7 linked regions of the Homo sapiens genome follow. The protein of the gene in region 7 purifies or fractionates together with the protein of the main gene of each other region. This does not show direct contact. Each region holds a gene or a part of one and is shown on either strand. Other genes may lie near its edges. The genes, in order: NCBP2, STAU1, RSL1D1, EFTUD2, PRPF8, YBX1 and DDX21.

Region 1 (3,039 bases), on a different chromosome or scaffold from region 7:
ATAAACTAAATGCCTTTATAAACTTGTGTTCTCTCGTCTTGAGTAACATGTACTGTTTGGCGAGGAGTAATTTTTTTCTTGTGACATTCCAGTCACGACAGAGGTCATTTCAGAACAGTGAGCAGTGCAGGCCCTAACCAGCTCACCCTCAGAGCAGCAGCACCATCACTCGAATTTTCTACAACGGAAATGTTCTATATCTTCATCTTAGCTTGACTGAGAAACTGAATGTTTAATTCTCACACTTCACTAACATGTATTAATAGTGATGCCTTCATCTGTACGTTTGAATTTTCACTTTTCTCCGATTAAAGTGAGAAACAGGTCAGATGCTATCCATGAGAAATAGGAAAGAATGGTGCAGTAAAGAGACTCACATTTAGTGTTCTCTAGCCCAGGAAACATAAGATGTTCTTAATCCACCCACAATTTCCCTTCCCTTGCAATCATCCAGAGCATGTTTTTTGGAAAACTAACCTATTCTTCCATCAGTAGAGGTTGCTTGGTGCCTATTTGATCACTTTCACAAGAAAATCTGTGCGCTCTCTTCACACGCAGCAATAGTTATTTCCAACTGTCAGTCAATCAAAATGGACACGCGAATTGTCCACACTATTCATAGAATCCCCCTGGAACTCATTCATGTGTATCCAGAGTACAGGAATTCCAGAACACAACCCTCTTTATAGGCCAGGAAACAGGCAGCAACAACGATAAGTTCATCCAGCTTTATTGAAACCTATTACAGAAGACAATCCGAATAAAACCACTGTCTCCTGTAGAAATCTGAGTTATGTTGTTTTACTACAAAAGAATATAAAACACATTAAATTACAGTGTGAAGGAATTTTAAAAATGAACAGTGTATCCTCATTAAATGTTTGCAAAGTTTCTTCCTAAGCACTTACAACTAGTTACAGCTCTTTTAAAAATTCAGATTTCTACACTCAGTTTAACGGGAGAGACATTCACACTTAGGTACTTCAGCCCCAACTTTCACGGACTATTGGAAATTAGAAGGTACTTTGTTGCTAAGTGAAAAAAATGCACATTTTTTCATATCAGGGAAAATTATACTGGACTTAACAGTTTTAAATGAGCAATAACTCAGATATATTAGAGAGAAATCACCTCTTGCCTTACAAATACCAAATAAATTCCCTAGACTCCCCTCCCTGTAGAGACCATCAGCTCACTGTGAAGGCTTGAGCCTCAGTAGGTAAAATTTGAGGAAAAAAATGAGAAATGGCTAAAAGAGGCATCTGCTGCAGGAACCTTCTGTGACTGTCAAACATTCCCTCTTCAAGCTCCCTTTTAAAACCCAGTCCATTCCCAACATCACTGAAAATGAAAAGAATAAACTTGCTGGTCCTCATGTCAAGGCAGTGTTTTCATTGTCTCTTGATATTTTATCCCATTTCCTATTGACAACATCTCCCCTACCCCTGAAATTATTTAGAGGTTCCCTCTATGACAAACCCTTGCTTTTTTTTAGCTTTAGGTATAACACTGACATCTTTTGAAAAACGTGTTAGTAAATACTCAAGTTCTGGCCTCATTTCCTGATGTATGAAGCATGGAAGCAGTGCTGTCCTGTGGAGATTGCTTTTGCACCAACTACACAGGAAGGTCCTTGACCTCTAAGCATGCCTTTAGAGGTTAGAATTCACAGAAAACAAATTCAATTGTCAAACACCTGTTCCTAATTTTGTGCAAAGCAATACAACATAGCACAACTCCATTTGTTGTTTTTCGTTGTGCTTTGTAGAGACGGGGTCTTGCTATGTTGCCCAGTCTAGTCTCAAACTCCTGGCCTCAAGCTATCCTTCCTCCTCAGCCTCCCAAAGTGTTGGGATTACACGTGTGAGCCACCATGCCTGGCCCCACCTCCATTTATTAGGCTATCTCATGCAAACTTAAAATTAAAAAAATAATCCCAGGCCCCAATGTAGATCATGAACCTACTTAAGACTCATTATGGTAAAAACAAATTCTTACATTTTTCTGTCTTTCTAAAAGTGTAGTGGTTATGGCTAAAGACTAATCAACATTACAGATCCAATCTGTTGTCAAAGAACACAATTTCTGACCTGGTAACAAAATTGTTCTGATAATCTGACACATGGCCAAGATTCTCAGACAAGAATTAAAGGCATTCTTTTGGATTCTGTCCTTTAATAACTTTCAGAGGCTTCCAGCTCAGTAAAGACACTGATCAAATCTTGGTAAAAATGGGCTCGTGTGCAGACTTTAGGTGATGTTCTTCAGCAAATTCAACAGGCCAAAGGAGTGTTTGTCACTGACAGAGCTCTCACCACTCACTGGTTCTGTGCCAGTTTTCCATAGCCTCCTCTCCCAGCATCGTAGTCCTGCCGATACTCATCCCGAACCTTTAATGGAAAGAATCCAGAGTTACAGTATGGAAAAGAATGGTGTAACAAATATGCCTCCCACAAACATGTTAGACAAACAGTGAAACCTGTTCAGATGCCACAATGTGAACATTTCAAGCAGGACATATGCACTTCAGCTCACTTCAGTGCGTTTTGCTTTCATTTTAGATGTTCCTGCAGGTGGAAGATACCTAGCCCTAGCAGAAGTTCAAGAATGGTTGCTTGTTAGAAACGTACAGAACATACCATTTCACGGTTTAAAAAAAAAATTCACCCAAACCGTTGGGTGGTTTTCAGATCCACTTCAAGCCAAGGTTATAGACACAAAGTTATTTACAAAAGAGTAAATACAAATTGCCAAAACACCTGTCATTGTGACTGGAATCCCAGGCAATGGCTGAGCCCAGAGACCCTTCTTGCATACCTGGCCCCCAGATCGCCCACGGCCGTATTGCCTGCCCTCCTTAAAGCCTGCGTCCCAGTCTGTGCGAATGATTCGGTCATCCAGACGCGTCCCATTTATGTACCGCATGGCGTTTTCCGCATCTGCGCGTGAGTAATATCTTAAGTATTAAGGAACACTAGCATTTTTCCAAACATTTCTGGAAATAGGGGAACAACATGTAAATGAAGCTGAGTTGTTAAA
Region 2 (4,227 bases), on a different chromosome or scaffold from region 7:
AATAACAGGCACCTGGCTGCTAAAACCAAAAGCCCAGGTCACAAGACTCAGAGAGTCAAAGAAACCATTCCCTGGCCTGGGACTAAATTCCAACCTGGCCATCTACCAGCCATTTCATCTTGGGCAAACTACTGATCCTCTCAGCAAACTGCAACTTCCTTTTGTGGAATGAAAGGATCATTCTTTTCCTACCTTCTGACTGCATAGGTAAAATATACGAGGTCAACTTTCTAAGTTATAAATTGCTATACAAGAGATAAGGATTCTGTCTTACATCAGAAAGCACTTAAATTCAAATCACAATTAAGTTAAGCTGCCTATGTGAAATGACCACTTAGCTTTGAACTTAATCAGCTAAGTACAAAGAAATGTTCCATACTAATCTGAAGTGTCACCCAATCTAAGGAAGAGGTAACCCTAGATTCCAGACTCCATAAGAATTAGGAGGAAGAGGAACAGATCTCTTGATACTACTTACAAAATTTACCTTTGGTAAAGAGCAATGTCATAAACCTTCAAGGAGATGTAATGAAGAAAAACTTCTCCCAGCACCCACCACCCCAGGACTCTTTCTTCCAAATTTCAGTGCAACACACCCACATTCCCACCAGTGCACCCAGCAGTAGTGCTGGTGTGCAGACATTACATTCATTTTTTTAAGCATTAAGATAAACAACTTAATCTTTGATATGTAGCCTTTACAGATTTCTGTGGTATGTTTAAGCTATCAAATTATTGCAAGCCACAAGGTCTTAATAAGGATCACAGTTGGCTGGGCGAGGTGGCTCACGCCTGTAATCCCAGCACTTTGGGAGGCTGAGGTGGGAGGATCACAAGGTCAGGAGATCAAAACCATCCTGGCCAACATGGCGAAACTCCGTCTCTGCTAAAAATACAAAAAATTAGCTGGGCATGGTGGCACGTGCCTGTAATCCCAGCTACTCGGGAGGCTGAGGCAGGAGAATCGCTTCAATCAGGGAGTCGGAGGTTGTAGTGAGCTGAGACAGCACCACTGCACTCCAGCCTGGGCGACAGAGTGAGACTCCATCTCAAAAATAAATAAATAAATAAATAAATAAATAAATAAATAAGGATCACAGTCGCTGGCAGAACATGGCCCACAGGATCCAGCCTCCTCAGGAAGGTGTCCAGACCTTGAACCGCCATCAGCCCCCAAGGCTGGACGTGGTCAGAGGAAGGGGCGCCCATCATCCATGCGGACCCACCTGCATCACAAACTCCCTGCGGCGCGGGAGGCCTCGCTCTGTGAGGAGCGTGTACTCTGGCTCCTTCTCCTTTTTTGCCTGCTGGATCTGGGCCAGTCGGCTAATCGGATTGATCCCCTGGCCATATTCTGGGCTTGTCTGTGGCTGAGGAACAAACAAGGCAGAAACTCTGTAATGTTATTCACCGCATGAACTTGGTCAACTCAGAGATCAGGATATGAGAGGAGATAAGAGATTTTGGGTTGACCTAATGGCTCAGAATTCGATTTTTTTTAATTTAACATTTTAACAATGAAAAGATGCTTTATTTTTTTTATGATTGTTCTAGGTGATTTTAAGGTCTTAGCAAACCAACATCAACATTTCACTATAACGAAGCGTCACTATGACTGCGACGGCTGTTTTTTAACATATTTCAACATATGACAGTAAATGGGCAGAAAAAACATAAAACACTATTCCTACAACTCCCCAAAAGTCTGAGCTATGATGGGTTCCCAATTTTCTTGAAAAGAACTCAAAATCCAGGAACCACTTTTTTAAAAAAGCTCAAGCTGATGCCACATGGCAAGAAGAACCTCAGAATCCCAGTTACTTCCTTGAGGCCACCTTTTGTGCCAAGGAACCCTCACTCTGCTGATCAGAAGTGACTTCCAGGCTATATTAAGCAAAAAAGGGAAACAAAAGGTATACATAGTATGCTTTTATGTAAGAAAAATTTGGATCTTGATACAGCATGAAACTACATATACTGAAAATCACAAAGTTCCCCATGGAATTATGTCCCCTTTCTGGGGTTGGGGAAGGGGTCAATATAATGCTTTGATAGATCCATTAGTGTGGCTCAAAAATCCAAAAGAAAAGGCACACAGCAAAATGTCTCACTCCTACCCTCCCACTATGGGCCTCCTGCCTGGCACAAATCTCCTCCACCTTCAGAACAGCAACATGGTCACTGAGACACAGGCACTGTTATTTCACCACGCGCCCCACAGACCGGCATGGCGTTCCTGCCCAATACCCCACTGTGATCGCCAGGGCTGTGATGAGCGCCCTCCTGCACAGATGTGTGTGCCCGTCTGCGGGTACCTCTACTGAACTGACACAATGTCCTTATCTTACCTAACAGGTGGCTCTTGCAGCACCTCTAAGGGGTCTGGCAGGCCTGGGGTGTGGCACGTTGGTCTCATCCCCTTTCACCTTGGGGACAGCGACCAGCCTTCTAAACCCCCCACCCATCTATAAGTAATGAAAACACCTTCTGTGTTCAGAAAAGTTCTCACCTTGACTATGGGTTTTGTTTTCTTTTTGATTCTAGGCTTTACTCGTTCAACTGCAGGCAGGGGCGGTAACTTCTTCAGCTCCTCAAGAACAGCTATGGCGGCATTTTTCTTTGAAATCTTCTTGCTTTTCCCTTCACCTTCCCCCACAAACTCCCCAACCGAAACCTTGGTCACAAAGTTCTTCATGTGGGGTGGGCCACTCTCCCGGGCCACCTGTTTCAGAGGGAAAGACTGAGTGAAAGCGGACAGACACTTATTAAAAGCTCCAAGGCACACTGGCTGGCACACTTCACACAGACACAGGGAAGGGGAACCAAGGACAAGACCTACTAAATGAAAGGAAGCGGGGATCATTTCAAATGCTTTCTCGCCTTTCTTCTTACTTCTCAAACTGGTTTATGCTCTTGAGTCTGGTGAGTCCCAAACAGTCAGGCATGAAATAGGGAGACCTTTTTACTCCCATGCCCCTGGCTCACAGGCTGTCCTGAGTTTAGTGTGGTCCACTGCAACTGGCAAAAAGGAAGCTAGCCCAGCAAAGTCCAGAAATAAATGCAGTACAAATGCTCAAGTTTAGTATCTGCTCTGAGCCTCCAGCCAGGACTAGGCCTACTAAATACTGGTTGCTATGTGGCCACAAAAGAGAACGAGACAAATCTCTTAAGCACTGATAAAGAGGGATTCCCCGCACACATTAAGTAAAAAAAAAAAAAAAAAAAACCCACAAAAGAGTATATGGTATGGTAGCTTTAGTTTAAGAAAAATAGGATTTTATACAAATATCTACACATATATAAACAGACACACATTTATAAGCTCATTTTTGCAAAAAAAAAAAAAAAAAAAAAAAAAACGAAGGATAAAAAAAATCAATGGGCTGGACATGGTGGCTCACACCTGTAATCCCAGCAATTTGGGAGACCAAAGCGGGTGGATCACTTGAGGTCAGGAGTTCAAGACCAGCCTGGCCAACATGGTGAAACCCCCATCTCTACTAAAAATACAAAAATTAGCTAGGGGTGGTGGTGCACACCTGTAATCCCAGCTACTTGGGAGGCTGAGGCACAAAAACCCCTTGAACCTGAGAGACGGAGGTTGCAGTGATCCAAGATCACAAAACTGCACTCCAGCCTAAGCGATAGAGTAAGACCCTGTCTCAAAGGAAAAAAAAAAAAAAAAAAAAGCAAGCAATGGGCCAGGCGCGGTGGCTCACGCCTGTAATCCCAGCACTTTGGGAGGCCGAGGCAGGTGGATCACGAGGTCAGGAGATCGAGACCATCCTGGCTAACATGGTGAAACCCCGTCTCTACTAAAAATACAAAAAAAATTAGCCGGGCGTGGTGGCAGGCGCCTGTAGTCCCAGCTACTCGGGAGGCTGAAGCAGGAGAATGGCGTGAACCTGGGAGGCGGAGCTTGCAGTGAGCTGAGATTGCGCCACTCCAGCCTGGGTGACAGAGTGGGACTCCGTCTCAAAAAGCAAGCAATGAAATTAGTTACCTACAACAGGTGTGAGGGATTAGGGTAGACAGACGGGATGAGACGGGAATGATAGTTTTGACTTCTGGAAGCATTTACTGTTTTACATATTAAAGAAATAAAACTAAGTCAACAAAGATGGGGAAAGAATCTAAAATTAAACATGAACAGAAAGTTAGCTGCATATTAAAGTGATTACAATCTCCAAATGGACCAAAGACCTACACAGAGGCGCTAACATGCAC
Region 3 (4,227 bases), on a different chromosome or scaffold from region 7:
GCAGTGGCCTACAGCTCTGCCTTACTGGCAGCTAGCCATCTCCACACCGCAGTCAGCAAGTGCAGTACTTCATAAAATGTATTTTCAATACATTTAAAACCTGCCCTACCTCCCCAAGCTGATACACTGCCAATAATACAAACTTAAGTCACTTCTCAGCCTAATAAAATAGCCTGAACCGCATCCTTTGCTCAGCCAGAGGTTGGAAGCAATCACTGCCCTAAAACATCTGTTCTAGTAGGTAAGACTAGGTGTGGGGGCTCCGCCTAGCTCAGTATCCAGGGTAAGGTTAAACCAATATGACAACACACACACCAAATAGGCAGATGAACAGGATAAGTGCTGAATTCATTTAATAGGAAGTTAAACCAAGAATGAGGTGGATCTTCACGTTAAGGGGTAATATGGTGCTTTTAAAGGACAATCTGAGGCCAGGTGTGGTGGGTCACGCCTATAATCTCAACACTTTTGGAGGCCAGGACAGGAGGACCGGTTTTGTCTAGGGGTTCAAGTCTAGATGGGGCAAAATAGTGAGACCCCGCCGCTACAAAACATTGAAAAATTAGCCAGGTATGGTGATGTGTGTCTGTAGTCCCAGCTACTCAGGAGGCTGAGGTGGAAGGATTGCTTGAGCCAAGGAGTTGGAGGTTGCAGTGAACTGTGACTGCACCACTGAGTGCAGTGGCACGATAAAGGACAAGCTCAAAGCCTAGAACTAGTCATGTTCTCCAAGCATTCATCTTACTCTCCTTGCTTTTCTTAGTATCTGGAGCTGCCCCGTCCAATGCAGTGACCATCAGCCACTAGCCACATGTGCCTATTTTAAATTAACTAAAAATTCAGCTTCTAACACAGTAGCCACATTTCAAGTGCTCAATAGCTACATACAAATAGTGCCTACTGTATGAGACAGCACAGATGCAGGCCATTTCCATCACAGTAGAAAGTGCTATCAGACAACATTGTTCTAGAGAACTGAACTTTTTTTTTTTTTCATTTAAAGACAGTCTTGCTCTGTCATTCAGACTGGAGAACAGTGACAAGAACATGGCTCACTGCAGTCTTGACCTTCTAGGCTCAAGTGATCCTCCTGCCACAGCCTCCTGTGTAGCTGGGAGCACAGGGATGCACCACCACACCTGACTAATGTTCTTGATTTTTCTGTAATTGGCTGGGGGAGAGGGTCTCATTATGTTGCCCAAGCTGGTCTTGCACTCCTGGGCTCAAGCGATCCTCCTGCCTAGGCCTCCCAAAGTGCTGGGATTACAGGCATAAGCCACTGCACCTGACCCGAGAATTGATCACTTCTGAGGAATAGATTTTAGTTTTAAAAAAGGATCTGGAGCCATTAACAAAATCTTTTTAAAAAGGCCAGGTGCAGTGGCTCACGCCTGTAATCCCAGCACTTTGGGAGGCCAAGGCGGGCGGATCATGAGGTCAGGAGATCGAGATCATCCTGGCTAACTCGGTGAAACCCTGTCTCTACTAAAAATACAAAAAGAAATTAGCCGGGCGTGGTGGCAGGCGCCTGTAGTCCCAGCTACTCGGGAGGCTGAGGCAGGAGAATGGCGTGAACCCAGGAGGCGGAGCTTGCAGTGAGTCGAGATGGTGCCACTGCACTCCAGCCTGGCAGACAGAGTAAGACTCCATCTCAAAAAAAAAAAACAAAAACAAAAAACAAAACAAAACGAATAAGTATATATAAAATCATTGTCAAATACAAGATTAAAAGAGGCACACATGAATGCCTTTTACCTACCTGCAAGAACCACTTTTAGAAATGTTTAAGACTGTTCCACCTATACAGTCATTGATCTCTCTTGATAAATTCTTGGACAGAAGGTTTACAGATACTGGAACTCTACAAAATAAACACACAGGCATTCAGAACACAATGCATACACACCTAGAAGCTTCATGCTGCTAAAGTCCAGTCATTACTAAGAAACTTACTTCTTTCTTTGATAGAAATGTCTCCCAATGAGTGAGGGTAAGAGCCGCCTAATTCTGGCATCAGTAAGGAAGAAATCAAAACTGCTCAGAAGGCGGAGCTTGGCTTCATAGGATTTATATTCCTTCTTTAGAGTTTGGAGGGAGATAATCTAGGAAGTATAGAGAAGAATAAAAACAAGAAGTTAGGAATCTAAACAAGGAGAAGAAATACTTAGGCAACAATTTGGATTTGGATTTAAAAATGTCCTAGAGCCATGCCTCTATACTTTAATGAACACTTGAGGGCCTAAAATGTGCCAGGCACTACGCTACATGCTGGGAACACTGAGACAAATGAGAAAAGACCCCAGCTAAAGCAACTTAGATCTAGGTGGGCAACATATATATATTATTATACATATGTTGCTGTATGTGCTTACGCCTGTAATACTAGCCCTTTGGGAGGCCGAGGTGGGTGGATCACCTGAGCTCAGGAATTCAAGACCAGCCTGGCCAACATGGTGAAACCTCGTCTCTATAAAAATATAAAAATTAGCCGGGCATGATGGCAGGTGCCTGTAATCCCAGCTATTCGGTAGGCTGAGGTGGGAGAATAGCTTGAACCTGGGAGGTGGAGGTTGCAGTGAGCCGAGGTCCTGCCATTGAATTCCAGCCTGGGCGACAGAGCGAGACTCCAAACAAACAAAAAAACTTAGATACCTTAGATCCAGAGGGTAATAAAGACAAGTACACCAACTACAAAACAGCAAATCAGAGAAAAACAAGATGCTGTGGAAGTACAGAGGAATGACACGAGCCACCTCTTTTATAATTTGCAAGATATAAAAGCTACTGATGTACACGCCACCACAAATTAAATTAAAAAGAGAAAAGTAGAAGAAAAATACTAGGAAATATAGCAATGTATTTGTGATACCATTTCGCCTGAATTAAATCCTCTAAATAACTTGAAAATATTAACCAGGCTTCCTACCTGAGAAACGGTTTTAATTCCATGCTTGTTTAAAAGCTTTCTATAAAACTGTTCTGTCTTTTCAGGAGTTGAATTGGGTTCATCCTTCGTAAATAAACAGATATCTTCTGAATCTGATCGAATACTATGAGGCAAGGTCCTACAAAATACGTGAAAAGAAACCGAGGAAAGCATTATTACACACATTATGCATGTTTGTATCACACAGAATACGCGATAAACTTAGTGTTATTTAAATAACTTTTAGTCATGCTAGTTAAGCAAATAATGCACCAAGAACAACACTTAAAAATACATTTCATGGCCGGTAGTAGTGGCTCAAGCCTGTAATCCCACACTTTAGGGAGGCCAAGGCAGATGGATCACCTGAGGTCAGGAGTTCAAGACCAGCCTGGCCAACATGGTGAAACCCTGTTTCTACTAAAATTATAAAAAATTAGCCAGGCACGGTGGTAGGTGCCTGTAATCCCAGCTACTTGAGAGTCTGAGGCAGGATAATCGCTTCAACCCGGAAGGTGGAGGTTGCAGTGAGCCAAGATCGCACCACTGGACTCCAGCCTGGGTAACAAGAGGCAAACTCCGTCTCAAAACACAAAAACAAAAAACAAAACTCACTTTCAATGGCAAGTAAATCACAAAAACACACAGGCCCAAATATCAATTAACACTTGGGATACAACAAGAATTAAAATATACTTAAAGACTTCCAAATGCTTGCATATATAATTATTATACATATGTTGCTGTATGTGCACACGTACTGTAATGCGCTATAAAAACCTAGCTTAATCAGGACAAGCCTGGTTCAGAATTTTACCTTCTTTAAAACTCTTAGCTCCATAAACATAATAACTCTTTCTTCTTTTCCTTTTTTTGAGACAGGGTTTTGCTCAGTACCCAAGGCTGCAGTGCAGTGGTGTGATCATAGCTCACGATAGCCTCCAGCATAGCTGAGACTCCAGGCACGTACCAGTTGGGTGTAGGCCCAGCTAATTTTTGTATTTTTCGTAGAGACAGGGTTTCGCCACATAGCCTGGGCTGGTCTTGAATTTGTGGGCTCAAGCAATCCACCTGCCTCAGCCTCCCAAACTGCTGAGATTACAGTGTGAGCCACCACACTCAGCCAACATAACTTTTTTTTTTTTTTTTGAGATGGGAGTCTCACTGTCGCCCAGGCTGGAGTCTCTGCAACCTCTGCCTCCTGGGTTCAAATGATTCTTGCACTTCAGCCTCCCAAACAGCTGGGATTACAGACGCCCACCATCATGTCTGGCTAATTTTTGTATTTTTAGGAGACATGG
Region 4 (4,227 bases), on a different chromosome or scaffold from region 7:
ACTAGGACATCATGAGTTACAGAGGTTAACTGGGGAAGAAGAGTGAATGGAATGAGAACAAAGGAAACCTTTCTATCAACATGGTTTGAATGAGAATGTATTCATGAATTACCTATATAATTAAAGAAAAACACACTGTAAAACCTTTTTTTTTTTTTTTTTTTTTTTTGAGATGGAGTCTCGCTGTGTCACCCAGGCTGGAGAGCAGTGGCTCGATCTCAGCTCACTGCAACGTCTACCTCCCGGGTTCAAGCAATTCTCCTGCCTCAGCCTCCTGAGTAGCTGGGATTACAGGCATGTACCACCACACCCAGCTAATTTTTGTATTTTAGTAGAGACGGGGTTTCACCATGTTGGCCAGGCTGGTCTCAAACTCCTGGGCTCAAGCGCCTCAGCCTCCCAAAATGCTGGAATTACAGGCGTAAGCCACCACACCTGACTGTAAACCTTATTTTCAAAAAGAAAAAAAAATGCTGGTTTATAAGACATCAATAAAAAACTTCAAATGTCTTGCCCAAATCAAGATACATCATGTCCACAGCATGCCCCTGACCTGTGGCTCAACCTAGTAATCCTATCAAGAGAAAATTATTTTTATAAAACTCATGCTAGCTTCCTAAGTACTCAACAGTCATTTTTTTTTTTTTTTGTTTGAGACCGAGTCTCACTCTTGTTGCCCAGGCTGGAGTACAGTGGCACAATCTTGGCTCACTGCAACCTCCGCCTCCCGTGTTCAAGTGATTTTCCTGCCTCGGCCTTCCAAGCAGCTGGGACTACAGGCACGCGCCAACAAGCCTGGCTAATATTTGTATTTTTAGTAGAGACGGGGTTTCACCGTATTGGTCAGGTTAGTCTTGAACTCCTGACCGTGTGATCTGACCACCTTGGCCTCCCAAGGTGCTGGGATTACAGGCATGAGCCACCACGCCCGGGCCCTTTCTATTGCTTTTATGCATCTCTGAAAATCTGAGCTTGTGAGGGAGCTCCCAGTGCAGCTGTAGCTGGAAGAGTTGAGTATCTTTTCCAAGTGGGAATTATTCATGACTGTTAAAAGACACTTCAGGGAAATGGAAGAACTAATGATCAACTAGAGCTCAGATTACAAAACCATCTCATCAATGAAACTACATATTCCCTTTTGGAACCTTAGTAGCGAAGCTTTGCTGGAGCAGTATGAGATCCCACTAAGTCATGTTATAAAAAGGACAATCTCAAGAGACGTACCCAGGGTATCACTGGAACACAGAGGATTCAAAATTTCATTGTTTTTTAAAAAAAGGTGGGGGGGGGGGTGGGGGGGCAGGCATGGTGGCTCATGCCTATAATCCCAGCTCTTTGGGAGGCCAAGGCAGGTGGATTGCTTGAAGTCAGGACTTCAAGACCAGCCTGGACAACATAGTGAAACCCTGTCTCTACTAAAAATACAAAAAACATTAGCCGGGCATGGTGGCACACACCTGTAATCCCAGCTACTCAGGAGGCTGAGGCATTGAGAATTGCTTGGACCTGGGAGGCAGAGGCTGCAGTGAGCCAAGATGGTGCCACTGCGCTCCTGCCTGGGCAACAGGGTGAGACTGTCTCAAAAAAAAAAAAAAGAAAAAAGAGGGGGCTGGGCATGGTGGCTCATGCCTGTAATCCTAGCAGTTTGGGAGGCCAAGGCAGGTGGACTGCTCGAGCTCAGGAGTTCAAGACCAGCCTGGGCAATGTTTCATCTCCACGAAAAATAAAAAAAAATTAGCTGGGCATGGTGGTGCATACCTGTAGTCCCAGCTACTTGGGAGGCCAAGGTGGGAGGATCACTTAAGCCCAGGAGGTGGAGGTTGCAGTGAGCTGAGATTGCGCCACTGCACTCCAACCTGGCAAGAGAGTGAGATCTTGTCTTAAATAAAATAAATAAGAGTGAGATAAAAGAGCAATATATTTGTTTTACCTCATCAAGATCTTTGGTCTCTCTACCCAATTCATCATCATCTTCATCAGAATCAAGCTCTGGTCCAATATAATTCCCAAACTCATCATATAAGTCGGTATCCATGATGCTAAAATTCAAGGAGAGAAGAGTTAGATTCTGACAAGGTAATCAAGGCCTTCATGTGGTGGCTCCACCTGTCTAGTCTTAGTCTTATGGTTGGCCATACCCCTTTCACATGCCTCCTCTCCAGTGACATCAACCTACTGAATGCTCCTCCCAAAGCCCAGTACTTTCCCCAAGTCTCTGCCTTACTTGTCTCTATTTATGTAGTCTTCCCTCCACTTTTCTTGTTTTGGGTTTTAAGGAGCAGAGAGTTGAATAGGCAAGAAGGAAGAAAGAAGACAGAAGGAAGAAGCTCCGCCGTACAGAGATGGGGCGTGGGGGGCGCTCCAAAGCCAAAAGAGGAGGTCCCCCTCCCTCCACTTTTTTAATACTAAATTTAATTTTAAAACAACTCAGTATCAAAAAATGGCAAGAACAGTACAAATAACTTACTTTTTCCTAAATTATTTGAAAGTGAGCTGTTGACACAATGGCTCATCACCTCCTAATACTTTAGTGTAAGGGTGGGCAAACTCTGGCCTGTGGCCAAATCTGGCCCCTCCAGCTGTTTTTACATGGCCCTCAAGCTAAGAATGCTTTTTCACATTTGTAAATTGCCAGGGAAAAAGTCAAAAGAAAAATATTTCATGATACATGAAAATTAATTATAAGGAATTCAAATGTCAGTGTCTATTAAAAAAGTTTCATTGGGAGGCCGGGCGCGGTGGCGCATGCCTGTAATACCAGCACTTTGGGAGGCCAAGGCAGGCAGATGACCTGAGGTCAGGAGTTCGAGACCAGCCTGGCCAACATGGCAAAACGCTGTCTCTACTAAAAATACAAAAATTAGCTGGGTACGGTGGCTCACACCTGTAATCCCAGCTACTCAGGAGGCTGATATAGGAGAATCCCTTGAACCCAGGGGGTGGAGGTTGCAGTGAGGCGAGATGGCACCACTGCACTCCAGCCTGGGAGACAGAACAAGACTCCATCTCAAAAAAAAAAAAAAAAAAAAAGTTTCACTGGAAAACAGCCATGCATATTCATTTGCATCATTTACAGTTGCCTTCACACTGTAATAGCAGAGTTGAATAGTTGAGACTGAAACCATATGGCTCACAAAGCCTAAAATATTATCCAGTCCTTAATAGAAAAAGTTTGCCAACCTCTCCCTCACCATGTGTAATTCCTACAAACAAGAACATTCTCCTACATAACCACAATACAACCATCAAAATCAGAAAATTGATATTCACACATTACTACCACCTTCTTTACAGATCCCATTCAAGTTTCACAGATTGTTCCAATAATACCTTACACACCTAAGGATCCAATCCAGGATCATGTTTGCATTTGGTTGTCATGTCTCTAGTCTCTTTGGATCTACAATCTTCAGTCTTTGGATCTACAATCTTCAGTCTTTCCTTCCAAGGACTGTCATGAAATCCTTAAGGATGTCCCTTGATTTGAGGTTGTCTGATGTTACCTTATGATAATATTCAGGTTATGCGTTTTGGGCAGGAATATCATAGAAGTGATGCTGTGTTCTTCTCAATGCATTTCGTATCAGGTGATACATGATTTCAATTTGCCCCATTAGTGGTAACGTTAACTTTGATCACTTCATTAAGGTGATGTTTGCCAGGCCTCTCCATTGTAAAGTTACTCATTTTCCCTTTGTAATTAAGTAGTGTTTTGTGGGTTTTCTCCACTTCAATTACTGAAATTCTATTCAAAGAAACAGTTCAAATGCCACCACCTCCTTCAAGCTTTCCTAGCTCCTCAATTTCTCATTCCTCTATCCTACTAGAGCTTTTTGCACCTTTATCAGTATTTAATTTTGTCTTAAATAGTAGTTAACTGGCTGGGCACAGTGGCTCATGCCTGTAATCCCAGCACTTTGGCAGGCCAAGATGGGCGGATCATGAGGTCAGGAGATAGAGACCATCCTGGCTAACACAGTGAAACCCCGTCTCTACTAAAAATACAAAAAATTAGCCAGGTGTGGTGGCACACACCTGTAGTCCCAGCTACTCAGCAGGCTGAGGCAGGAGAATCACTTGAATCCAGGAGGCAGAGGTTGCAGTGAGCTGAGATCGCACCACTGCACTTCAGCCTGGCTGACAGAGTGAGACTCCGTCTCGAAAAAAATAAACAAAATAAATAAACAAATAGTAGTTACTAATTACCATCACCAACTATAGTTTATA
Region 5 (4,227 bases), on a different chromosome or scaffold from region 7:
AAATGTTAGGCACTTAGAAGGTACAAAGAGTATCAAATGGCCGTGTCCAATGACCAGGCTGACAGCCCCTTTCAACAAGACAATACCACAAGCTGACACATGAGTATGTGCTAAACTATACACTGTTTTACAGAGTTCAGGAACAAAAGAAATTAAGGCTACTAGGATCAGAAAAAAGCTGCACAAAAAAACGTGTCTTAAGGAGGGACTGTGATTAACAGAGCAAAGAGGGGAGTTCATTCTAGAAAGAAAAATACAAGCAAAACACAGATTTGGAGATGAGCATCAGGGGTTTGGGCTACTAAGATCCTGGACTGAATGTAAGATGAAACATGCTATAAATGTAAAGGAAGAGAAACTGGCTGGACAGATACAGCCCAGCCAGATGTTGAACGTCTAGGAAGCTAAAGAAGAGTTAATTCAGCAAGAGTTGTGAGGTAGAGAAGAGATTTGGTCAAAGTGGATGTTTCAAGAATATGCGTTGCTGGGCCGGGCACGGTGGCTCAAGCCTGTAATCCCAGCACTTTGAGAGGCCAAGGCGGGCGGATCACGAGGTCAGGAGATTGAGACCATCCTGGCCAACATGGTGAAACCCCGTCTCTACTAAAAATACAAAAAATTTAGCCGGGCGTGGTGGCGGGCACCTGTAGTCCCAGCTACTCGGGAGGCTGAGGCAGGAGAATGGCGTGAACCTGGGAGGCGGAGCTTGCAGTGAGCTGAAATCAGGCCACTGCATTCCAGCCTGGGCAACAGAGCAAGACTCCGTCTCAAAAAAAAAAAAAAAAAAAGAGAATATGCATTGCTGGCCAGGAGCAGTGGCTCACACCTGTAATCCGAGCACTTTGGGAGGCAGAGGCAGAGGCAGGCAGATCACAAAGTCAGGAGATCGAGACCATCCTGGCTAACACGTTGAAACCCTGTCTCTACTAAAAAATACAAAAAAAATTAGCCAGGCGTGGTGGCGGGCGCCTGTAGTCCCAGCTACTCGGGAGGCTAAGGCAGGAGAATGGCGTGAACCCGGGAGGCGGAGCTTGCAGTGAACCGAGATTGAGCCACTGTGCTCCAGCCTGGGCCACACAGCGAGACTCCGGCTAAAAAAAAAAAAAAAAAAAAAGAGTATGCGTTGCCTTTGGAAAAATGATTTTTGATAGCCCTGTTCAAGGTTAGAAATTCAGGAAACAGACCAGCTGGAAGGGAACGAAGCACCTCATACACTCTTGGACCTCCCACAGAATACTTCCCAAGGTATTTTGGGGATAAGTTCAAATGAGATGTTCTCAGCCTTTCATCTAATAAACCAGTAAATATTACCAAGTCCACCCCAAGAATAAGAGGCAACATGGTTCTACAGCCTCTTCATCTTTAAACCTGCTCACCTGCCCCAAACGCTTCTGTCCCGCCCACACGGACGTGTGGATTATCTTGAGGAACAGCTGCCCTGTGCGTGGGTTGAAGATGAAGATGGCTCCGTTGATGGGCTTGGTTGTCAAGTTCCCTTCAAAGGTCTAGAGGAGGACGGCATTCGTTAGCATGGCCTACACAACACATCCCCATCCTGCCTTCTTCCCAGCATGTGTACACACTTAGCCCATTACTCTCCCACAGCCATGTACAGAGTCCCGCACCTATACACTGCTGCTAACACTCACCTTGTGAATAGTCACTCTGTAGACGTTGGTGTCATCCACAAACCAGATAATCTGGTTGGAGAAGAGCTCACCATAGTTCTGAGAAGACAAATAAGGCTCAGTGGGTTCAGATGAATAGAGCTGTAGCCCCTTGCGGATCCGTTCACGTAACACATACAGGGCAGGGTTTGCCTTCATGATCTTGGCCATGGCCTGTTGTATGAGAGGCTTGCTGCCTGGGAACCAGTTTCCATAGGCACTGTGAGGATAAAAGGGTCAAGAAAAGTTAAGACGAGAATGACAGCCCCAGAAACAAGACAAGCTGCCAACTCTACAGAGGAAGAAAGACTGTTCGCCAGGCTGACAACACTCTGCTCATGTGTACATACAGGCTGGAGAAGAGAATCAGTGACCCATAGGAGGAATGGGCCACTTCCTCTCACTTAGGTAAAGTAAAAAAGTATGACTACGTTAAAGTATGGAGCTAATGGAAAATACACGGATTATTTATTTATTTATTATTATTATTATTTTTCTTTGAGATGGAGTCTCACTCTGTCGCCCAGGCTGGAGTGCAGTGGCGCAATCTCGGTTCACTGCAAGCTCCGCCTCCCGGGTTCAAGTAATTCTCCCACCTCAACCTTCTGAGTAGCTGGGACTACAGGCGTGGACCACCACGCCCAGCTAATTTTTTGTATTTTGGTAGAGACAGGGTTTCACCATGTTGCCCAGACTGGTCTCAAACTCCTGAGCTCAGACAATCTGCCCACCGCGGCCTCCCAAAGTGCTGGGATTACAGGTGTGAGCCACTGCGCCTGGCCTGAAAATACATGGTCCTGAGCCTCAACTCACCTGTGCAAGTTATAGGCCAGGTCAATGGCGATGAGTACACCTGTGGGCGAAGGGTAGATACTCATGTTGTCGGTGGTGTAGTCCAGGAACTTGGCCCGGGCGTAGCGCTCAATGTCGTGGGAATCATAGTCCCCCCAGCGCAACTGGATGTCAATCCAGTATTTCTGGGTGGTGGTGCTGTCCATCACATCCCTGAGGATGAAGAGGGTTCAAGCTTCTAAGAAACCATGGGCATAACCAATGTCCCCAGAACCAGAACCACTTAAATCCCAAAACCATCCCACCCACTCCACCAACTTGTTCCAGGTCAGCAGGACCCCAGAGAATCAGCAGATCTGACTAAGGGTGTTGACAGGCTCCAAGCGTAGCACTGGCTCCAAGTTTGAAACAAAGGCAGACAGGACAATTCCTAAAGTTGCAGGGCTAGAAGAACAGGAAAACGAAAGTGTCCTGGCTGCCTAGGGCTGGGTCCTGAGGCACTTACTTGGAGTCAGCCAGCAATGAGGGCCGGGAGACATTCCACTTATAGGAGGCAAAGAGCAGGATATCTGCACAGGAAGAGTTCATCTTATATGACTTTCGGGGATGGATTGTCTCCTTTTGTACTGTCTCAATTTCCAGTGCATCAAGTTCCTGGTCAAACACCTGAAGGAAAACATGGAGAGATTAAGACTTGTTAAGGAAGCCCAATTAAAATCAGAGTTTGTACAATAAGATAATGAGGCAATAGGAGTCTCATCCTCAGAGCTTCCAGGGTGGATTTCCCATATGCAAAAGAGCAAGCTGAGCTGACTCTGTACAGCACGCTCTCCCCGCGATTCCACCTGAGCTGACTCTGTACAGCACCCTCTCCCCGCGATTCCACCTAAGCTGACTCTGTACAGCACCCTCTCCCTGCGATTCCACCTGAGCTGACTCTCTACAGTACCCTCTCCCCACGATTCCACCTGAGCTGACTCTGTACAGTACCCTCTCCCCTCGATTCCACCTGAGCTGACTCTGTACAGTACCCTCTCCCCTCAATTCCACCTGAGCTGACTCTCTACAGTACCCTCTCCCCTCGATTCCAGCCCACCTGACATAAGTCCATAACAATGCTCTCATGGATCTTCTGCCACAAGTGAGCTCGGAAGATCTGGATGAGAGAGATCTTCAGCGTGGGGATCTTGCCGTGCATGAAGATACCCGTCAGGTCTAGCTGCACCTGAAAGCCTACATATACCTGCCAGGAAAACGACAATGTGACATTAGAGATCAAGAGACTCGGGCGCTCACGACATAACCAAGGCAAGAAGCAGCAACTGTCTTTAGCTTCCCCTCTCCAGTGTCAATCACACTCACATTGGCTCGATTAATGGTCGGGGACCACCAGAGGGTGAATCTACGATTGGGAATCTGGTTCAGTCCTGATCGCTGAGCATTAGTTAGCTTCTTCCACTTCATAGATTCCTCAAAGCCACTGGCCTTCTCCCTGGGGAGCAAGAGAAGCAGGTGAGGTGATATCCTGCCATTTCCCAGCACACTGCTAACCTCCTGGAGGTGGCTGTCTGGGAAACACCACAGGAAATCACAGAGGCATACAAGAGATGAGCTCAAAGGGTTGTGACAGGTCCCTCTAAGAGAGGAGAATCCTCACCAGAAAAGCCCCTCCCAGGTAGGGAAGTAAGTGCCCTTAAAGAGTGTGTGTTCCAGAATGCCTTCCACACCGCCCAGGGCCTGGATCATGTCTGTACGGTAGTTGTTCAGG
Region 6 (4,227 bases), on a different chromosome or scaffold from region 7:
GGCAAGTGACTGAAAACTGACCTTTCAAGCTAGATGATTAGGATTGCCTAGGGAAATGATGGCTGTACCTAATGTCCATCTGTCCATAACTCCATAGGCACCACAAAAACAGATTACAGCCATCATTTATTAGTTCTGCTCTCCAATATGACTGAATTTCAAACTCTAAGGCTCTAAGGGGAAATACAATAAAAAACTGGTAGAGTAAGAAAGGCAAATACAGGCAAAGTCTAGAATAGTGATTTTCAACAGGGGCAATACTTCCCCTGGCAGGGTATTTAAAGTTTTTCCAGTCCGGGTGCAGTGGCTCACGCCTGCAATCCCAGCACTTTGGGAGGCCAAGAGTTCAAGATCAGCCTGGCCAACATCGTGAAACCTCGTCTCTACTAAAATTACAAAAAATTAGCCAGGCGTGGCTGTGTGTGCCTATAGTCCCAGCTACTCTGGGGGGTGAGGCAGGAGAATTGCTTGAAGCTAGGAGGCGGAGGTTACAGTGAGCTGCTGCACTCCAGCCTGGGCAACAGAGTGAGATTCCATCTCAAAAAAAATAAAAAAATAAAATTTTTTTCCAAAGATAGGGAGCACTATCTGCATTAATGGAAGTGGTGGGTGTTAGTTGCTAGAAGACTATGTAAAGATTTGGTATAGAAAGTAAATTTGTTTATTGTTATCTGAGTCATGTATGTATTTCTGTACTGTTTTAATACGCATTAAATTCACTAAAAATGCAGCTTCTGTGGAGAATTTTTCATTACTGATAATGCTACTCATGGTATCTGGGTAATACATCATTTCTTTATCAATCCATTTTGTGGTGGCTCTGACTGTTTGTTATGCCTTCTAATGTAGTTACAACAGGTATTCACATATCAATATCATCATACCCGGCAATAAAAATAATTAAAAGTAGTTACGTGGCGAGACCCTATATCTATAAAAAATAAAAAATTAGCCGGGCCTCCATTCAAGTCCCGGAAATGAGGGTGCAGTGAGCTATAATCATGCCACTGTACTCCATCCTGCGCAACAGAGCAAGACCCTGTCTCTGCACAGAGAAAGCACAAGGCTGCCATTACACACAGGGTAATGTCACTCCTGCAAAGACAGGGAGGTGTTTTGTGGGTACATAGATAGATATGTGAAACTAACACAGTTCACTGACCAGTGTCATGACAGTAAAAACAGTATTGCAAAAGGAATACTTAGCCAGGGCCTCAAGCTCAAGGTATTTACTGAAAACGTCCTCAATTGCAATAAAAACATTATACCATTAAAAAGAGTGATTTGTTGAACCAGTGATTTAAATGTATTGATCTGCTTTGAATTTGCAACCAGCCAGAATCTCTAGTTTAAACTGGCAGTTATAACAAAAGAGACCCTCAAATATTAGACAGCTGCAGTGCAGCTTTCTGGGTGCAGGTGTCACTCTCTGCCAGCCATCACTATTCTTTTCTGTTCAGTTTTTCTCTCAGGTGTTTGCTGGGAAATTAACACTGGAACTGACCCTTTTCCGGCAGTGAATGTAAGCTCTAGCTCCCCCATCTACTAGAAAGAAATGTCTTCAAGATGTAGAAATAAGGAATATTCTGAAAATAAAAATTATACAGTAGTAAAGATAATTCAGAAAGAAAAAGCTACCTGTTAGAATTTCCAGTCTAAATGGCACAGGGTAGTTAGGGAGAAAAGGGGTTGGAGAAAGAGAAACTATGACTAAAGATGAGAGGTATGAACAAGCTGTCAAGTTCCTATGGGCTAAAGCTGGGGCAATCAGGCCCTGAACTCCAAAGCTGGATAAAGTCTTTCTTTCTATTCTTCTTGGCCACCTGCACAGTCTGACACATACATATGTACAATTAGATTTGCAGGTCACAGGAGTGCCCTGCATTGTTTTAACTAGAAATAAAAAGTATTAGTCTAAATGTGGTTCTGGTGCCCTGTATATATGTAACAATATAGGACCCCCAAAATAGATTTTGCTTCTGGTGAATCTTATTCATTGGGTTAGTGTATGACTGTCTATAATATTTTCCATTTGTATTATTACATTGGGAAAAACATTTTTATCACTTTCTATTGTTAAGAAAATGGAAAACTTAAATATGGTGTTAAAAATGGAAATATATGTGATATTTGCATTATTAAACCCCTTTGCAGATCTTAAAAAAAAAAAAAGAAAAGAAAAAGAAATAACAGTACTCAATTTTTTTTTGAGATGGAGTCTCACTTTGTTGCCTAGGCTGGAGTGCAGTAGCGATCTTGGCTCACTGCAACCTCTGCCTTCGGGGTTCAAGTTCTTGCACTTCAGCCATGAGTAGCTGGGATTACAGGTATGCACCACCACGCCCTGCTAGATTTTTAGTCTTGACTCAACTATTAACAGCTGTGTAACCTAGGAAAGCTGCCTCATTGGCTTTTTTACCTGCAAAATGAGAAAAACTACACTAAACACTTAATAACTTACATTACTAAGGTAGGTACTCAAATCTTTTTAGTATTTATTGGGCATTTACTATTCACTAATACTAGCCAGATTTCTAAATTAAAATCTAATTGCTACCACTCCTATACTATGGCCTATCCAGATTGGTAAGGGTCTTAAAAATAGACAAAATGCAACTCAAAATGGGAAAACAAAGGCAAAAAAATTTAACTTCCCTGGAAAACTTTTTAGTAAGTCAAAAGACAATTACAGCTTGCCAGATAATTCTCCATGCCACAGGAACTAGGAATTCTAGCATTTGCTTTTCATGGCCCAATCCATCCAAACTCCCGGACTCTACTCCAGCATGTTCACCATGTTTGACCCCCCTCCCACTCCTTTTAAAACATAACTATCTTTATCCTAGCTGTATATCTACATAAAAAATAAGCTAAATTTTAGAAAACTTTTTTGCCAATCCACAGTATTGCCTTAAATAAGACTTATTATACATAAATTTATCCGTAACTAAATGCTCTTATACTACTACTTTGTTGCAGATCACCAGACCACACTAGTCTAACACCTTAATTCACGTAACTGCATACACTAATTTACAATCCTGTGGTTATAAAAACTCCAGGATTTACCATCTATATGCTCCATAACCTAAAGCAACCAGATACCAATTTCCAAGCCTTGTAGATGACTGTAAGATAATAATGTCCACTTATCTTTGTATTTCTTCTCTATTAAACACCCTTCACACCCAACAGACTCACTTCTGTTTCCCACATATTGTCTATGATTCTGCCTTCGGACAAACTGTATGTTTCCAAGGGCTAAGACTGGAGGGTAGCAAACTCAGCAACTGCAGCCCCAGGACTAGGGGGACAGGAAGGTAATACAGTGTATCCTTGAATAACTCAGTATCTATGAGGGTGGATAGAAGTTTGAGGTGCCAACCTGCTGCACAGTTGAAATCTGCCTGTAACTTTTGACTCTTCCAAAATTTAATGGCTTACTCGTGACTGGAAAGCCTTACTGGTAACATAAATCCTTAACACATTTTCTGTCTTATATGTATTATATACTGTATTCTTGCAATAAAGCTACAGAAAAGAAAATGCTAAGAAAGTTGTAAGAGAAAATACATGTACAGTACTGCACTTATCGATACGGTAAGTGTACATCTGTCTGAAAGGTAATTCCAGCTGTAGACCTCATCTATAGCACATATCGAGCAACTGAACTTTTTCTTACAATGCCATGACTTTTCTCAGCATCACTAGCGCCACTTTGCATGGGTCCCATGGTGCTATTGAAGACTTACAGTATTGCACTAAACCACAATACCTGTGTACTACAAGTTCTTTTTACTGACATGCAATTTACTGGAGAGATAAACTGTTCATGTGAAGATGATTAGCGTCACATGGCATTTTAAGGGGCTCACTGCAGTAGCAATAGGCAGTGGCTACATATTATAATAGTACAATATTACTACAGTGAATGTCGTGCAGTTATGATTTAATGCTGCCTGAATCTTTATGTTTGTTTACATTTCTCAACTGCAAATGGCTGTATTAACTTTCTAATGCATTTGTGTACATTTTATGGTAGTAAATAATAAAACAGACTAGTATCTACAACATACTCAACTTTTCCTTATTTTGGGGGATACTTCTTGGCTATGTGGTTCATCTGAAGTTTTCAGGTTGTTGCAAATCTCCAAACATTTTTCCAATATATTTATCAAAAAAAATCTGTGTGTAAGTGGACTTGTGTGGTTCAAACTCACATTGTTC
Region 7 (3,500 bases):
AATCACACTTAAAATTTAAACATTAGAGGGCAGCAGAGAAATCTAGTGCTTTGTGTTTAAGCTTAAAAGTGTTGAAGTTTAAAATTTCACCTTTGATTCTGATAATCTAGATGAATTAATTTCACTGAGGAACAGACCTGTATATTAATCTACTACAGATTGGGTTTTTAAGTAAATGAAAAGGCAAAACATACAGAAATTTGTTGGTTATTTGGTTTCCTGTAGAAAGCTAGGGAGTGGCATTTCCTTTCCTGCATTTTCCTGGTTGTCAGAAAATAAAGAAGTTAGATGCTCTTTAGAGAAAGGGGAGAGGCATGGGGAGATGGGCAGATCATGTTGCTTTCTGCTTTACTGGCTTATTTAGGTTTTTTTCTGTCAGTGGTGGCTGCAGACAGCTCTTATCAGGCTTGAGTAGTTGTTTCCAGGAGCAAGACATTAGAACATTAGTGTTGTGCTCACTGATCATTGTGTTGTGATTTTAGTTTCCAGCAAAGCTTTACTAAATAGATGTTTTTTTTCTTCTTACATAAGCATCTGGCTATTAAGTGCCACTGGACTCAGAGGGCAGCAGTTATTGGGGATGTCATCCGAGTATATAGTGGTCATCAAGGACGCACTATCATCTTTTGTGAAACCAAGAAAGAAGCCCAGGAGCTGTCCCAGAATTCAGCTATAAAGCAGGTTGGTCCTTCCCCTTATGCCAGCAAAACTGGGGATATCAACAAATCTTCACCTTGGGCATATCTGCTCTTGGTCTGATTTTCATTCATTCAGTGAATACCAGTTTAGTTTAGTTTAGAAATGAGAGGAAGCTACTTTTTTTTTTTTTTTTTTAATTGAGGCAGAGTCTCATTCTGTTACCCAGGCTGGAGTGCAGTGGTGTGATCTGGGCTCTCTGCCTCCTGAGTTCAAGTGATTCTCCCACCTCAGTCTCCCGAGTAGCTGGGATTACAAGTGAGCACCACCATTCCTGGTTAATTTTGTTTTTTCTTTATTTTTTTGAGAGGGGGTCTCGCTTCTTCGCCCAGGCTGGACTGCAATGGTGTGATCTTGGCTCACTGAAACCTCCGCTTCTTGGGTTCAAGCAGTTCTCCTGCCTCAGCCTCCCAAGTAGCTGCGATTACAGGCACGTGCCAGCATGCCCAGCTAATTTTTGTATTTTTAGTAGAGATGGGGTTTCACCGTGTTGGCCGGGTTGGTCTCGAACTCCTGACCTCAAGTGATCCACCTGCCTCGGCCACTCAGAATGCTGGGATTATAGGCATGAGCCACTGCGCCCAGCCTAATTTTTTTTTTTTTTTTTTTTTTTTTTTTGGAGACAGGGTCTCACTCCCTTTGCCCAGGCTGAAGTGAAGTGCATTGGCGTGGTCTCGGATCACTGTAGCCTCAACCTCCAGGTAGCATGCACCACCATACCTGGCTTTTTTTTTCTGGATGGTGTTTTATTATTGATATAATTCATGTGCCACATATTATCATTTTAAAGTGTACAGTTCAGTGGCTTTTAGCATAATCATGAGGTTGTGCCACAGTCACCACTATCTAATTGGGAAGACTTTTTTTATCTTCAACTTTTAGGTTCAGGGGTACATGTGAGGATGTACAGGTTTGTTACATAGCTAAATGTATGCCAAGGTGGTTTGCTGCACAGATCATCCCATAACCTAGGTATTAAGCCCAGCATTTATTAGCAGGATTAGCTATTCTCCTACCCACCCCCAACTAATTTTATTTTTTTAAATTTTTTTTCTATTTTTAGTAGAGACCGAGTCTTGCCATATTGCCCAGGCTGGTCTCAAACCCCAGCCTCAAGCAGTCTGCCTGTCTGGGCCTCCCAAAGTGCATGAGCTACTGCACCTGGCCTCACTTCTTTCTAATGATCAGAGGGTACATGTTAGAACTCACTTAATCTGTCATGGCATCTCATCACACAAATGAGGAAAGGGTGGCTCAGACCTAAGGTTACACTGATAAAATAGGTTTGATCACTCTTGTCTCATTCTCAACTTCAATAAGTAAAGTTGGATACAGTTGGAATTGATAACTGAGGATTTGGAAATAATATTGAGGCTTATCCATTCAAGACACATTTTCCCCTTTGTAATGTTTTCAACAGGCATGTCACCAAAATATGAATGTCTTTTACAGGCCTAACTGATGAAGAGAAAAAGTACTTGTATTGTTGGAACTGGTGTTCTTACATCCGTTTATTTATTGGCAGGATGCTCAGTCCTTGCATGGAGACATTCCACAGAAGCAAAGGGAAATCACCCTGAAAGGTTTTAGAAATGGTAGTTTTGGAGTTTTGGTGGCAACCAATGTTGCTGCACGTGGGTTAGACATCCCTGAGGTTGATTTGGTTATACAAAGCTCTCCACCAAAGGTATGTGCTTTATGCTTAGATTTTATTTTGTTTTGTTTTTTTTGGGTATTAAAACAAATTGGAAATTGTATTATTTACTTTCATGTCATTAGTATATAGCTATCTTTTGAGTGCTGGGATGCTAAGGGTGATTTTGAGAATGAACCTGTTATCAGACACCCCCCTCAGAACTGACACTTGAGTAGAAGTGCAGTCAGCAGACAGAGGTTCAAAAGGTGACTTGGGGATATAGTGTGATTTTTGAGCCAAACCTTGAAGATGGGTGGAAGGACTGAGATGGGATAGGGGTAAGTAAGGTAGATAAATGCATGAGCCTAGAGGACAGGGGAGAGAAAGGGCCTGTAATTAACCTCTGTGGTTAGAGATGCTTAGGTTTGTGAGTTATAGGAACCTCTCAAGGAGGACCCTGAATCATAGTTTACTTGATGTGGATAGTTCTTCACGTAAATAAAGGTTGTTCCAAAGGTATTCCAATCACTTCCAACATGAGGACCCCAAAATCTCACCCAAATTGGCAAATCCCCCATGGTTAAAGGCTGCTTACAACAATGGGGAAAAATAACTGAAGACTATGAATTCACCAATTCTTAAAAAGGAAGTCCCATGAGTGTGTGGTATAAACATTGTTTCACGAGCCTTTAGACTTTTTGATATGGTAGCCACTAGCTGTGTTGAGCACTTGAAATGTAGGTGGTCTGAATTGATCTGTGTACTGCAAGTGTAAAATACATACTGCCTAACTTTTTATTATGCGGTCTGGATTTTGAAGACTTACGAAAAAATACAAAATATTGCATTGGTACCCTGGTTTGTATAGATAGTATATTGAAATGATAAGACTTGGATATTCTGACAGGCGTGGTGGCTCATGTCTGTAATCCCAGCACCTTGGGCGGCTGAGGCAAACGAATCACTTAAGGTCAGGAGTTCGAGACCAGCCTGGCCAATATGGTGAAACTCTGTGAAACCCTGTCTATACTAAAAATACAAAAATTAGCCAGGCCTGGTGTCAGGTGCCTGTTGTCCCAGCTACTTGGGAGGCTGAGACAGCAAGATCACTTGAACCCGGTAGGCGGAGGTTGCAGTGAGCTGAGATCATGCCACTGCACTCCAGCCT

The links.
Region 1: the proteins of DDX21 (region 7) and NCBP2 purify together in Homo sapiens (co-immunoprecipitation; 2 studies listed by BioGRID and IntAct, with this or other methods). This does not show direct contact.
Region 2: the proteins of DDX21 (region 7) and STAU1 purify together in Homo sapiens (affinity purification with mass spectrometry; 4 studies listed by BioGRID and IntAct, with this or other methods). This does not show direct contact.
Region 3: the proteins of DDX21 (region 7) and RSL1D1 purify together in Homo sapiens (affinity purification with mass spectrometry; 3 studies listed by BioGRID and IntAct, with this or other methods). This does not show direct contact.
Region 4: the proteins of DDX21 (region 7) and EFTUD2 purify together in Homo sapiens (affinity purification with mass spectrometry; 3 studies listed by BioGRID and IntAct, with this or other methods). This does not show direct contact.
Region 5: the proteins of DDX21 (region 7) and PRPF8 purify together in Homo sapiens (affinity purification with mass spectrometry; 2 studies listed by BioGRID and IntAct, with this or other methods). This does not show direct contact.
Region 6: the proteins of DDX21 (region 7) and YBX1 purify together in Homo sapiens (co-immunoprecipitation; 4 studies listed by BioGRID and IntAct, with this or other methods). This does not show direct contact.

Annotation. Positions count from the first base shown.
Region 1 is NC_000003.12:196,934,693-196,937,731, forward strand, and holds the end of NCBP2 (nuclear cap-binding protein subunit 2), read right to left. Parts: intron 2,957-3,039; coding exon 2,818-2,956; intron 2,391-2,817; coding exon 2,319-2,390; 3' UTR 714-2,318; downstream 1-713. UniProt on the Homo sapiens protein: Component of the cap-binding complex (CBC), which binds co-transcriptionally to the 5' cap of pre-mRNAs and is involved in various processes such as pre-mRNA splicing, translation regulation, nonsense-mediated mRNA decay, RNA-mediated gene silencing (RNAi) by microRNAs (miRNAs) and mRNA export.
Region 2 is NC_000020.11:49,121,866-49,126,092, forward strand, and holds part of STAU1 (double-stranded RNA-binding protein Staufen homolog 1), read right to left. Parts: intron 2,741-4,227; coding exon of another isoform or gene 2,723-2,740; coding exon 2,510-2,722; intron 1,371-2,509; coding exon 1,227-1,370; intron 1-1,226. UniProt on the Homo sapiens protein: Binds double-stranded RNA (regardless of the sequence) and tubulin.
Region 3 is NC_000016.10:11,844,742-11,848,968, forward strand, and holds part of RSL1D1 (ribosomal L1 domain-containing protein 1), read right to left. Parts: intron 3,066-4,227; coding exon 2,927-3,065; intron 2,103-2,926; coding exon 1,954-2,102; intron 1,862-1,953; coding exon 1,760-1,861; intron 1-1,759. UniProt on the Homo sapiens protein: Regulates cellular senescence through inhibition of PTEN translation. Acts as a pro-apoptotic regulator in response to DNA damage.
Region 4 is NC_000017.11:44,892,487-44,896,713, forward strand, and holds part of EFTUD2 (116 kDa U5 small nuclear ribonucleoprotein component), read right to left. Parts: intron 2,040-4,227; 5' UTR 2,036-2,039; coding exon 1,931-2,035; intron 1-1,930. UniProt on the Homo sapiens protein: Required for pre-mRNA splicing as component of the spliceosome, including pre-catalytic, catalytic and post-catalytic spliceosomal complexes. Component of the U5 snRNP and the U4/U6-U5 tri-snRNP complex, a building block of the spliceosome.
Region 5 is NC_000017.11:1,656,877-1,661,103, forward strand, and holds part of PRPF8 (pre-mRNA-processing-splicing factor 8), read right to left. Parts: coding exon 4,117-4,227; intron 3,952-4,116; coding exon 3,822-3,951; intron 3,703-3,821; coding exon 3,556-3,702; intron 3,126-3,555; coding exon 2,965-3,125; intron 2,673-2,964; coding exon 2,481-2,672; intron 1,888-2,480; coding exon 1,650-1,887; intron 1,506-1,649; coding exon 1,377-1,505; intron 1-1,376. UniProt on the Homo sapiens protein: Plays a role in pre-mRNA splicing as core component of precatalytic, catalytic and postcatalytic spliceosomal complexes, both of the predominant U2-type spliceosome and the minor U12-type spliceosome.
Region 6 is NC_000001.11:42,688,193-42,692,419, reverse strand, and holds part of YBX1 (Y-box-binding protein 1), read right to left. Parts: intron 1-4,227. UniProt on the Homo sapiens protein: DNA- and RNA-binding protein involved in various processes, such as translational repression, RNA stabilization, mRNA splicing, DNA repair and transcription regulation.
Region 7 is NC_000010.11:68,969,670-68,973,169, forward strand, and holds part of DDX21 (nucleolar RNA helicase 2), read left to right. Parts: intron 1-531; coding exon 532-681; intron 682-2,221; coding exon 2,222-2,383; intron 2,384-3,500.